2 linked regions of the Homo sapiens genome follow. The protein of the gene in region 2 interacts with the protein of the main gene of each other region in a biochemical or structural test. Each region holds a gene or a part of one and is shown on either strand. Other genes may lie near its edges. The genes, in order: GNAT1 and UNC119B.

Evidence for each region.
Region 1: the proteins of UNC119B (region 2) and GNAT1 interact in a biophysical measurement, tested with the Homo sapiens proteins (one study listed by IntAct).

The regions. Positions count from the first base shown.
Region 1 is NC_000003.12:50,187,476-50,194,830, reverse strand, and holds the start of GNAT1 (guanine nucleotide-binding protein G(t) subunit alpha-1), read right to left. Parts: upstream 3,222-7,355; 5' UTR 3,106-3,221; coding exon 3,000-3,105; intron 1,699-2,999; coding exon 1,656-1,698; intron 1,567-1,655; coding exon 1,425-1,566; intron 1,326-1,424; coding exon 1,168-1,325; intron 1,079-1,167; coding exon 950-1,078; intron 740-949; coding exon 610-739; intron 331-609; coding exon 177-330; intron 67-176; coding exon 1-66. Other genes in the region: SEMA3F (semaphorin-3F isoform 1 precursor), read right to left, coding at 6,716-7,126. UniProt on the Homo sapiens protein: Functions as a signal transducer for the rod photoreceptor RHO. Required for normal RHO-mediated light perception by the retina.
Region 2 is NC_000012.12:120,720,458-120,724,427, reverse strand, and holds the end of UNC119B (protein unc-119 homolog B), read right to left. Parts: 3' UTR 788-3,970; downstream 1-787. UniProt on the Homo sapiens protein: Myristoyl-binding protein that acts as a cargo adapter: specifically binds the myristoyl moiety of a subset of N-terminally myristoylated proteins and is required for their localization.

The sequences.
Region 1 (7,355 bases), on a different chromosome or scaffold from region 2:
GCCGCATGTTGAGCTCGAGGAACTGCACCTTGATGTAGTTGCCGGCGTCCTCGTAGGTGTTGGGTCCTGCGGGGGCGGGAGCTCTCACTCTGCTCAGCCCTTCCTTCCCCGTGCGGGGGGTGCGCGCCGCGATCGTGGGGCGGGGGCGCCGCCTGGCGGCCTTGCGGACTTCTCACCATCGTAGTCCGGGAAACAGATGCTGAGGTGCGCCTTCTTGATCTTCTCGAAGAAGACGTCCTTCTTGTTAAGGAAGAGCACGATGGACGTCGTGGCGAAGTAGCGGTGGTTGCAGATGCTGTTGAACAGGTGCAGGCTCTCGTGCATGCGGTTCTGAGGAGGGCAGCAGCTGTTGGGCACCCGGGGTAGCGTCCGACCCGCAGCACCTGCTCTCTGGGCTCCCGGGCACGCGGGGCTTCCCGCTCAGCTGGCTCTCAGAGGGCTCCCCGCACTGCCCCAGATGGGCCTGCTGAACGCCTCCGGGCCTCCTCAGGCCGCCCGGGACAGGCATCCCCTCCCGTGCCCTCCCCCAGCCCAGCGCGCGGTCTCCGCCTCCAGGGACCAGCAGCTCCTCCTCGCCCCCCTGGAACACAGGCCCTGCCTGGCACGCACCACTTCGTCGTCCTCCACTAGCACCATGTCGTAGGCGCTCAGCGCCGCGATGAAGATGATGCAGGTCACGCCCTCGAAGCAGTGGATCCACTTCTTGCGCTCCGAGCGCTGCCCGCCCACATCGAACATCCTGCGGGGCCGCGGGGGCCTGAACCTGCGCCCCGGGCCCCACAGGCAACATCCCTTCGCCCTGTGCTGGTCGGGGAGCTCTCGGCCGGGACTACCACCCTTTCTGCTGGCGGGGTATCAGGGAAGGGGCAGGGTCTATCGCAGGGATGGGGTCCCCGGGGCAGGACGGGGCCTGGGGCAGTGACCTCCTGGGCTAGCGTATGGGTCGTACCGGAAGTTGAGATCCTTGAAGGAGAACTGCGTCTCGATGATGCCAGTGGTCTTGACTCGCGAGCGCAGCACGTCCTGCTCGGTGGGCACGTAGCCCGGGGTTACCAGGCGCTCCAGGTCGGAGAGGTAGCTGCGCGAGACCCGGCCGTAGGTGGGTGGGGAGGCGTGGAGGGCCCCCTGCGCCCCGCGCCCCGCGCCCCGCGCTGCCCGCGCGCTCACTAGCCCGCCGAGTCGTTGAGCTGGTACTCCGAGGCGCGCTCAAAACAGGCCTGGATACCGGAGTCCTTCCACAGCCGCTGGATGATGTCCGACATCTCCTTGGGCATCGTGCCCTCCTCGATAGTGTCTGCCATGTGCATCAGCTTCCGGGCGTCGTCCTGGGGGCAGGGTGAGAGTGGCTGGTGGCGGCCAGGGACTCGGGCCCAGCCGCGAGCCTCGAGTCCCCAGAGGCCCGCTCAGCCCGCCTCCTGGCACACCTGGCGTGCAGAGTCTCCGTACTGGATGTTGAGTGTGGTCATGGCGCGTACGATGGCCAGGATGGACTGCAACGTGTTGCCGTAGATGATGGCGATAAACTCGAGGCACTCTTCCAGCGAGTACCCGTCCTGGTGGATAATCCTGAGGCCGAGGAGAGCAGAATCAGCGCCTCGTGGGGAAGTGGGGAAGGACCCAGACCCAGGGGCCTCGGGACAGGCAGGGGCACTCACTTCATCTGCTTGACGATGGTGCTCTTCCCGGACTCACCGGCACCTGAAAGAGACGCGGCGCCTCAGAGCTGCGCTGACCAGCCTGCCCCCTCCAGCAAGGAGGCCAGGAGGACGGGGACCTCCCGAGTTGGCAGGGTGGACCCGCAGCGAAGAGGCCTGAGCGCCAGCCCCGACCCCGTAGCCACACCTACCCCCCCATCCAAATTAAGTCCTGACATCCTGAAGTCACAAGGTTTGCAAATGCCAGGAAAGTGAAGAAAGGAAGCCAACGAGGGGACTCAACGACCTCAACTGTTCTGGGACAGGGGAGTCCCCAAGACCCCGGCACAGGCAGCCTTTATTATGCTGTGAGACTGCAATGAAGAAATCCCGGAGCGTCATCGCCACCTCGTGGGAGCCTCTGGTACCGCAAGCACTGGGTTATTTGAGGCGGGTAAACCCCTTGCATTTCACCTGAAGGGGTGCAGGTGTCTCCAGGAGGCTCAGAGGGAATTAGCTCTTTTGGGTAGGAGGGAGGGCAGAGTTGACATCCTTTCTGAGCTTGCCCCTGCGAGGGCGTTGGGCACAGTTAATGAGATTTCCGGCTTAGCCTCTCTGCCTTGGGGGAAAGTGGGACTGGCTTGGTCCCTCACCCACCTCCAGCTGGTTGACCAGACCCTGGGGAGCTTGGGTGGAGCCCCTCTTGAAGCTGCTTTTTCCCCTTGAGAGGTCAGGCAGTGACCTTGAGGCAGGCCTGGATCAGCCCCATCTCTCCTCAGTGCCCATGGTCCAGTGGACGCGGCTTTATCTACTCCCACTGGGCCTCAGTACCCGCCAGCCCCTCTGGCTGCTTTGTAGGTCTATCAGCCACAGCCCTCTGGCACCTGAGGGCCATTCGTTGTGGATCTGGGTGGTCCTAGAGGCTCCCCACTCCCAGGAGGACTATGGCCATCCCCTTCCCAAAGTAGCAGCCCAATAACGGGCTCCCAGTGAGGCTCCTGGCTTCTGAGCATTGCCTAGCAGGCGTATCAAACCAAAGGCTGCATGAAGCTTGCGGGAACCCAGCCACGGAAAAGTCGGCATCACACACCCGTGCAAGAGTGTGGTTGGCACGCACTTCTGGGGAGGGTGGGTCACCTGAGGCAGAGCCGTCTGGAGAGGGGCTTTGTGGGATGTCCAGCCCTGGGGGACTAGGACACCACCTGTCAGGCCTGGCCTTGCTTGGCCAGGGCTCCCACCCTGTGCCCTACTCTGTCACAGGCTCATACTGCTTCCCAGGGAATCCTTGCTTCACAGAAGGGCTGCCTGCCTGCCTCCAGACCAATGACCTGGTGGCAGTGGCCCCACCTGGGCCCACACCCCTACCCAGAAGCAGCAGCTTCACGGTTCGAGCATCCTTCTCAGCGTCCTCTTTCAGCTTCTTTTCCAGCTCCCTGGAGTGCTTCTCCTCAGCACTGGCCCCAGCCCCCATGGTCCCAGCAGCAGGCGAAGGGACAGAGTGAGCAGGTGGTTCTTCTGGATGGAGGGGATCCCCAGAACCTGGCCTCCCAGGCACCCTTCTGGCCCCAGGAGGACCTGCAATCAACTGGCTCTCTACGGACCTGTGCAATCCCTGGTGGGGCTGCTTAGTGGGATTTGGGGGCTAGGGGTGTCCAAGAGCCAATCAGAGACAAGGACAGGTGAATCCAGCTCAGCCCCCCCAACCCTTCTAATCGGGCTGGCATAGCCCCAATCCCTCAACCGCTGACTCTGCACTCCGGCTGTCCTTCTGTCCCCGCAACCCTCCAGGAGAGGCCCTGGCACTGCCTGGGAGTGGGGAGACATGTTCAGTAGGGTCAGGGCTGAGAAAGGGGAAGGCAGAACCTTGAGCCCTGGGGGTGAGGACAATGGAGGTGGGGCTGGCAGTGAGAGGGCATAATTGGGAGAAACATGCCTGCTGCCTGCCCGGCACCAGGCTCAGCACCACTCCTTATCTTGTTGTAAGCTCACACTGGCCCTGGAGTATGGATGCCCATATCATCAGCCTCATTTTACTGATGAGGAAGTAAAGGCTGAAAGGGTCACACAGTAGGAAGTGGTTAAGAAGGGCTGGTGACTCTGGACTGGGATTTTATGACCTGCAGGGAATCCAGAGAGAGGGAAACAGTGGGCATTGCATTCATCCCATATCACAGGCTGGAGCTGCCCCAAGGAGGTCCTCTGCTTCCAGCGGACTGTGGTGGGCATGCATATCTGCTCTGTGTGCCTCGGTGTATGTGTCTTTTTTTTTTTTTTTTCTGAGATGGAGTCTCGCTCTGTTGCTCAGGCTGGAGTGCAGTGGCGCAATCTCAGCTCACTGCAAGCTCCACCTCCCAGGTTCACGCCATTCTCCTGCCTCAGCCTCCTGAGTAGCTGGGACAACAGGTGCCCGCCACTACGTCGGGCTACTTTTTTTGTATTTTAGTAAAGACAGGGTTTCACCGTGTTAGCCAGGATGGTCTCAGTCTCCTGACCTCGTGATCTGCCCGCCTCGGCCTCCCAAAGTGCTGGGATTACAGGCATGAGCCACCGTGCCTGGCCTTTTTTTTTTTTTTTTTTTTTTTTTTTTGAGACAGAGTTTCACTCTGTTGCCAGGCTTGAGTGCTGTGACACGATCTTGGCTCACTGCAACCTTCAACTCCCTGGTTTAAGCTTCTCCCACCTCAGCCTCCCAAGTAGCTGGGATTACGGGCATGTGCCACCATACCCAGCTAATTTTTTGTGTATTTTTAGTAGAGACGGGGTTTCACCATGTTGGTCAGGATGGTCTCGATCTCCTGACCTTGTGATCCACCCACCTCGGCCTCCCAAAGTGCTGGGATTCAGGTGTGAGCCACCTCGCCCGGCCATGGGTGTGTCTTTTGCTGGCACCAAGCGAGCAATAACTTGACACATTTGTGCATGAATACCTGTGTGTACATGTGTGCCTGCATGTTTATGCCTTTGTGAGTGCATGTGCTCTTATAGGAATCACGTGCCTGTGCGCATGCTTATGTATGTGTGCACATGTATACACATGTGTATGCATGTGTGAATATGCTTTGTGTATTCTCTTCATGCACACATAGGCTTGTGTGTTTTGCAGTTTGTGTAGGTTTGCATGTGTGCACTTGCTTATACGCAGGGGTGTAAACATGCCTGTTTGTACCTGAGCATATGTGTGCCTGTGCATGTCCATCTCTGCCTGTGTATGACTGTGTGTGTGCATGCATGCTTGCAGGCGCCTGTGCCTATATGTACACTTGAATTTGGGTGCAACAAAGTCTCTAATCTGCAGAAGTGGCCAGGCTCTTCCAGAGAATGTTTTGCAGGCCTGTTGCCAGGTGGAGAAATTGCATCCCAGAGCAGGTGTAGTGTTCCCTGGGGTATGGAGGAATGGGGCTCACCTATCCTGCTCCTGCTCTGTCTGCTGTGGGTGCTCTGAGGCCTGCCTAAGATTATCTCCAGGGCCTGCCTGCCTCAGCTTAGGGGGTCTGGTGCTCTGTTCAGGTGCAGGGCTCACTGCCGGGCAGAAATTGTTCAGGTTGAGCTCCCAGGTTCTAGAGACTTCCCACCCTCAACTTCCATAGGAAAACCCAAATCTTGGGCTCTCAAAGGCTCCTCCAGGCACCCTGAGCCTCCTGGCTGGACTCTTCCCTGGAACCTGGCTGCCTTTCAGCACTCAACTCTGCCACAGACTCAAGAGACCACAAGGGGGTGCCGGGGCACCAGACACTGAGCACTAACGGCTGTCTCTAAATAGTATGCGTGGGAAGTGAATGCTGGCTCCTACCACAGGCTGGCAGCTTCTACACCCACCCTGTTGGATGATGGGGATCTGTCCAGGAGTGAGGCCGTTGCATTTCTGCCACTTTCAGCCTTCAGGCTCCACCCACCCTCCCTGACCCTGAGGAGTGAGTGGGCCCTGAGGGGTCTCTACAGCCCTTCGCACTACCCAAGTGTTTGGGGTGGTGCAGCAGCCCAGGTTTGTCAAACTAAATGTGGTTTCTACATGTTGGGTTTCTTTAAATGGAGCCAATCTACTCCCTTCCCAGCCCCCCACCTGGCTCCCCAGGCCCACCACGTGTGGCTCTAAATCCCCTGACCAAGGAGAGAAGCCAAAGTCTAGTCCCAGAGCCAGTGTTTATTAGCAAGATGGAACCCAAAGGCGGCTGTGGCCTGGGCAGCAGAAGGCCACCAGGAGCCCCCACCCATCTACCCAACTGCCCCCCAGAGCTAATTACATCCACACCCATCCCCTGAAGTGGTGGACATAAGGGAGCCCTGGGGAGCCTCTACCGGCCCCAGGCCTCTACCACGGACCCCCTCCCCTCAGAGCTGGGGCCTCCCGTCAGCTCTGCCTGGGCCTGGCCCCTCTGCTATGCTCCCAGCCTCTGAGTCAAAGTGGCACAGGGAAAGCTAAGGAGGTAGAGTGGGGTGGCCCTGCCCTGGCCAGGCGGGGAGGGGAGAAGGGGCTGAAGAGGCTGTCCCACCCAGGCAGGATGCCTCTTCTCCTATCCCCAATAAATAGAGAATAAATACCCAGGAAGGGGCTGGTCGTGGCTGAGTGCCCCCAACCCAGGCAGGGGCTGGCATCCTGTGATGGCCCCTTCTTCCCTTCTCTGTGTGCTCTTGAGGCCACCCCAGTCTCCAAAGTGGTCCTCGCATCCATGTCTATGCCACAGCACAGGCTGACAACACACATCAGAAAAGGTGGACAGTCCGTGCCCCATCCGAGTAGGGCTTGCTCCCTCCCTTTGTCCTGTAGATCTTGGCGGAGGCTGTCCAGCAGGTAGACTTCCAGCTGAGTCTGGGGACTGTGTGGTCCTGGCCTGGCCCCACCAACTGGCTGGGCCTGGTTAGGCAGGCTCTGTTTTCTGCCGTCTCTGACCAGCATGGGTCTAAGTTTTGGAGGATGCTGCCACTGAGGCAGGCTATATTCAACCCACCAATAAATACTGTCTTTGCAGGGGCAGGGTGTGTATAGAATATAGATATTTTATATATATATATATATATATATATCTTTTATATTAAAAGGGACAAGGGCTAGGCTGGCCCATGGCAGGCACAGGCAGCTGGCCTCATGTGTCCGGAGGGTGGTGCCGGCGGTTCCGGGGCTTTTTCTGGTCCTGGGGCTCAGGAGACCGGGGTGCCCCTGGAGCCTCCCTGGGGCTGGGGGGCACATGGCGCCAGTAACCCTGGCAGTACTGGTGGATGAGGCCCACTTCTGGCTGGGCCAGCAGCTGGGCTAACTCCTGGTAAGGAGGCGTTGGGGGGCCTGCGCCTGGGGGTGGCGGGGCGCTCATGGACAGTGGTGGGAAGAGGGCAGCATGGACGGCGTCCCGGCCCAGTACATGCAGCTGCACTCGTGTGACGACGTGCTTAAAGTTGTTCTCAGTGGCTGTGCAGGAGTAGAGGCCACGATCGCTGAGCTGCAGTGCACGGAGCAACAAGCCCTGCTCTGTGCGCAGGAAGCGGTCCTCTGCACGAATCTGCAGGGGCAAGGAGAGGGGGTTCAGAGGCTCTGTGACCACCCTATGGCCCTAGCCAGCAACCAGATCAGACCACCTTTGTGGCCATTCCGTGTAGAGGCACCCATGTGGGATTTCCATATGCCAGAAAAACCACATGAAGTTTCTACATAATGAGAGATATTTGAATAAGGCATCTGTACAGATTTCCATTTCAGGAGTGATGACCATAAGGAGGTTCTGTACAATG
Region 2 (3,970 bases):
AGTATCCAAGTTTTCCAATAGAGACAGAATCAGATAGTGGTTGCAAGAGGCGAAGTGGGGGAAGTCACCTGGCTGCAAACACAAGGAACTCAGGAACTTTCTGAGTGGGTACGATGGAAATGTCCTATATCATGATTGTGATGGGTAATAAAAGTATTCATTTGTCAAAATGCATCAATACTCTTAATTGAGGTAAATTTTACTGTAGTTAAAGTATTTCTTAATAAGCCTACCTTTATGGCCAGCCACAGTGGCTCACACCTGTAATCCCAGAACTTTGGGAGGCCAAGGCGGGTTGATCACCTGAGGTCAGGAGTTCAAGACCAGCCTGGCCAACATGGGGAAACCCTGTCTCTACCAAAAATACAGAATTAGCCGGGCGTGGTGGCATGCACTTGTAATCCCAGCTACTTGGGAGGCTGAGGCAGGACAATCACTTGAACCCGGGAGGCGAAGGGTGCAGTGAGCCACCATCATGCCATCACATCCCAGCCTGGGAAAAAAGAGCGAAACTCCATCTCAAAAAAAAAAACCCTACCTTTAAAACATGCATGTAAACTTTCAATTTACAAAGCCACTCACCCTGGGAAAATATAAAGCAAAAATATTAAGCCTAAAGTCCAGTACAATTCCTCAATCACCCTAGAAGCCAGCTATACTCTAGTTCAACTACTTACAGAAGGGCCACATAATAGCCAAAGTAAGAGAAACCTGGAGCCCCCATTCGCCCCTGCTCCCCTCAGCAACACAACGGGCCCAACAATCAGGAGACAGGACGAGGGAGACGTACTGTGAAAATCTTTCTTTTATTACTGTCTCATGTGGCAAAATAACATTTTATACAAATAAGTCACCTAGTTTACTTTGGACACAAAGACAATAAAAACTGGAATGTGATTTTGGGGGAAGCGGGAAGGAGGAGGAAGGACAGATCAGGTCATTGATGTTTCTTATATTCTGTAAAAAATAGATTTACAGGAAAAAAAATAGACTTTCACAACTTCAATGACTTTACACGGTCCTTTGTAAAACCAGTGGTAAATCCACCTCCACCAAATCCTTCTTGAGGCTGATATGTTCTGTGACATGGAATGTGAGTAACACAATGGTTCAATGATTAGGCTCCTACACCAGGTACAGCAGCACCTGATGCCACAGGAATCCTCGTGCACTGGGGTGAGGAGTCAGTCCTGTGAATTTCAGGACACACTGTCCTCATCCCCAGACCTCACTGACATCATAGTGACACTGGCCATCAGAAGAAAGTGACTTTACAGAGGGGAAAAGAGTATCCTGGAAGCGTACCGGTGGGGCAGGACACACTAAGGCAGGACTCACCCAGTTTGTACATTAGACACAGCCTATTAAATCCATTCCAGAAATGAGTTCCACTTCAACTGAAAAAATAAACTGAAGATTGCCCAATCACTGCCATTTCACAAATTTCCAGTTTATGGTCAGCCCCAAAATCACATTCTTCCACCCTATGTATTGGAAATCAAATGGCCCAAAGACTGAGGTGTCTTCAGGAAGCACATGCTTGAAAAATGTTTTCTCTGCAAAACAGTATTGAGTAATACATAAGGAGACATAGCCTACTTTAGCCCAAAACTTCTTTCACTTGTTATGTCCTTTTACCTCTTAAAACATAGAATGAAATAAACTCGGATCTTCTTTGGAGAAGCTAGAAGGGCATTTTGGCCCAAAGGCTGTACAGGAAAAGAGAGGCTCTCTCCAGGAGACTGCAAGGCAAAGGAACAGAAGCAGGAGGGGCAGGCCCTCTGGCACCAGGTGGGCCTGCTACTCTGATGAAATGTGCTCCCAGCTCTTGACAAAGGGCAGGGTCTCCTATGCAGGTAGTTTTTTTGCCGCCTCCCATTGTATCACCCACAAGGTAACTGCTATCAACAGTTCAGATTCCTTAATAACATGGCAGCCTGAATGGTTCTGTTACTTTCAGAGAAAGTATGCCTTGCAATTCTCTCCCCAACTCAGGTACAAACGCTTGAATTTCAAACTCATACTGGTTTACACCCCAGAGTGGAATGCTTCTCAAGATTTCCTGAGCAGCTAGACACAGGAACCCACAGCCCCAGATACAGAACACCAGACTTTCAGAAGCAGCAAAGCCCTGTCCTGCTGGGCATGGACCAAGCACTATCCGCAAATGGTCTCCAGTGAGACTAAGGCAAGCTAACAAGGAAGAGGATACAGCACAACTCAAGCCAGATTGCCCACCTCCTCCTTCCTCCACATCCTCTTTCTAGCAAAAGCGAACACTGCAGATAAGAGATAGCCCACTAATGTAGCAGATACAGTGTGCCCAGGGGCATGTTTCCAAGACACACTCTACTAAGCACAGCTCTGGGCAGCTCCAGAACCACATCCCAGATAATACTCAAATATCAAATAGTAGAAACTGTCCCACCTGGGCCTCTGTCAAAGAGAGAAGGGATTGTTGTTACGCTTGACAGGAACATGCAAATCCCATTTGAGGAGCCACAATGAGAAACAGAAGGTGAGGAGACAGTGCTAACAGCCCTGGCATCTTTCTGCCAGTGAGGAGGTGGGAACAATGGCAATGCAGCTTTCCCCTGCAGCATAAGGGACAGAGCCACACGTAAGGCACCTGGATTTACAGTGGACGCCAGTTCTGAGAGTGGCCGGTCTGGTGATAAGGAACCCACTCCACAGGAGGAATGGTCTCTCCCCTCTCTCGGGGCTGAATCCAAGGCCAGCACACAGGGGTAAGCTAGGACCTTCTCAGTGAGAAAGCTGCCAGCATGTGGCATTGCCAAGACTCTGGCCTGGGACAAAGCACTGGGCCAAGGTTCGGGGCCACTCGCCCTAAAGCCCACACAGGGAGCAGCACTGGTGGTGGATGGACAGGAATTTCTGTGGCCACACACTGTCTCTTCCATCCCTGGCCCCCATACGGCCTTTCTCCCAAGCACATCAGGACACTCTCCTGTCACAGGTACTGTGACACCTCACAGTCACTTACCAGATACCTGGGCCTTTCCTAGTGACATCCTTCTACTGATGCTAACTGGACCCTGGCCACATCAATCGTCTCATCAGAGGGTTTGTGGAGTCTGTCCACTAAGGGTCTGAGGACAAAAGCAGCCCACAGATGTGCAAGTGAACTTTTTTGAGAACACATCACTCTGACAGGCCACATCAGCCTATTTTGCCCTTTCTGAACACCTAAAACAATTCTAACTAGCAGTCTGAAGGCTCAGACTGCATTACGTAACTCTGATCCACCAGGAAAGTTCCAGAAACTACTTCAGTAGAAAGGTAGATAGGAAAACCCTCCTAAACAAGAAATGTACAAAGAGCTTCGGAGGCAAATCCCCATCAAAAGCCAATCCTCCAGGCTGTGCAGTGCAGAGAAAAGTCAAATCTCTCCTTTAGAAAGCTGCTGCTGATTCGTAAGCATATCCTCCCAACATAAGCCAGATTAGCCCCTGGAAGCTGATACTATCAGAAGTCTAACCACATATCACATATGCTGGGAACACCACTGTCATTTTATAAAACCTCCCCGAAAGAAGTCTGGAAATAAAAAAACAAAATACAAGACCTGCTCTGGCCTCAAGAGATACTACTGTTCCATGAGCAGAGCTGACTCATTCTATTTCATGAGACTCAGAAGGGAGGAGCCAGGAGATGTGGAGCAAGCTTGTCTGTCCTCCAAAATGGGAACAGAAGGCACTGCCAGGCTGAAAACTTGGTCTATTCCCAGGAGGGCTGGCTGAGACCCTGGAAGTCAGACAGAGCAGCAGCCTCTCCACAAAGCAGACCCTTCAGCTTGGCAGCATCACCCATTCCTTGGTGCCTCCACTCTTGGCACCTCCCTCCCTCCCCACCCTTTCAAGTGTCTTCCAGTTGGTTTAAGACTTCACACAGACCGAGGGCAGACTGCGCTGATGGCAATGCCGGAGGTGAGAGGAGGAGCTACCTGGAA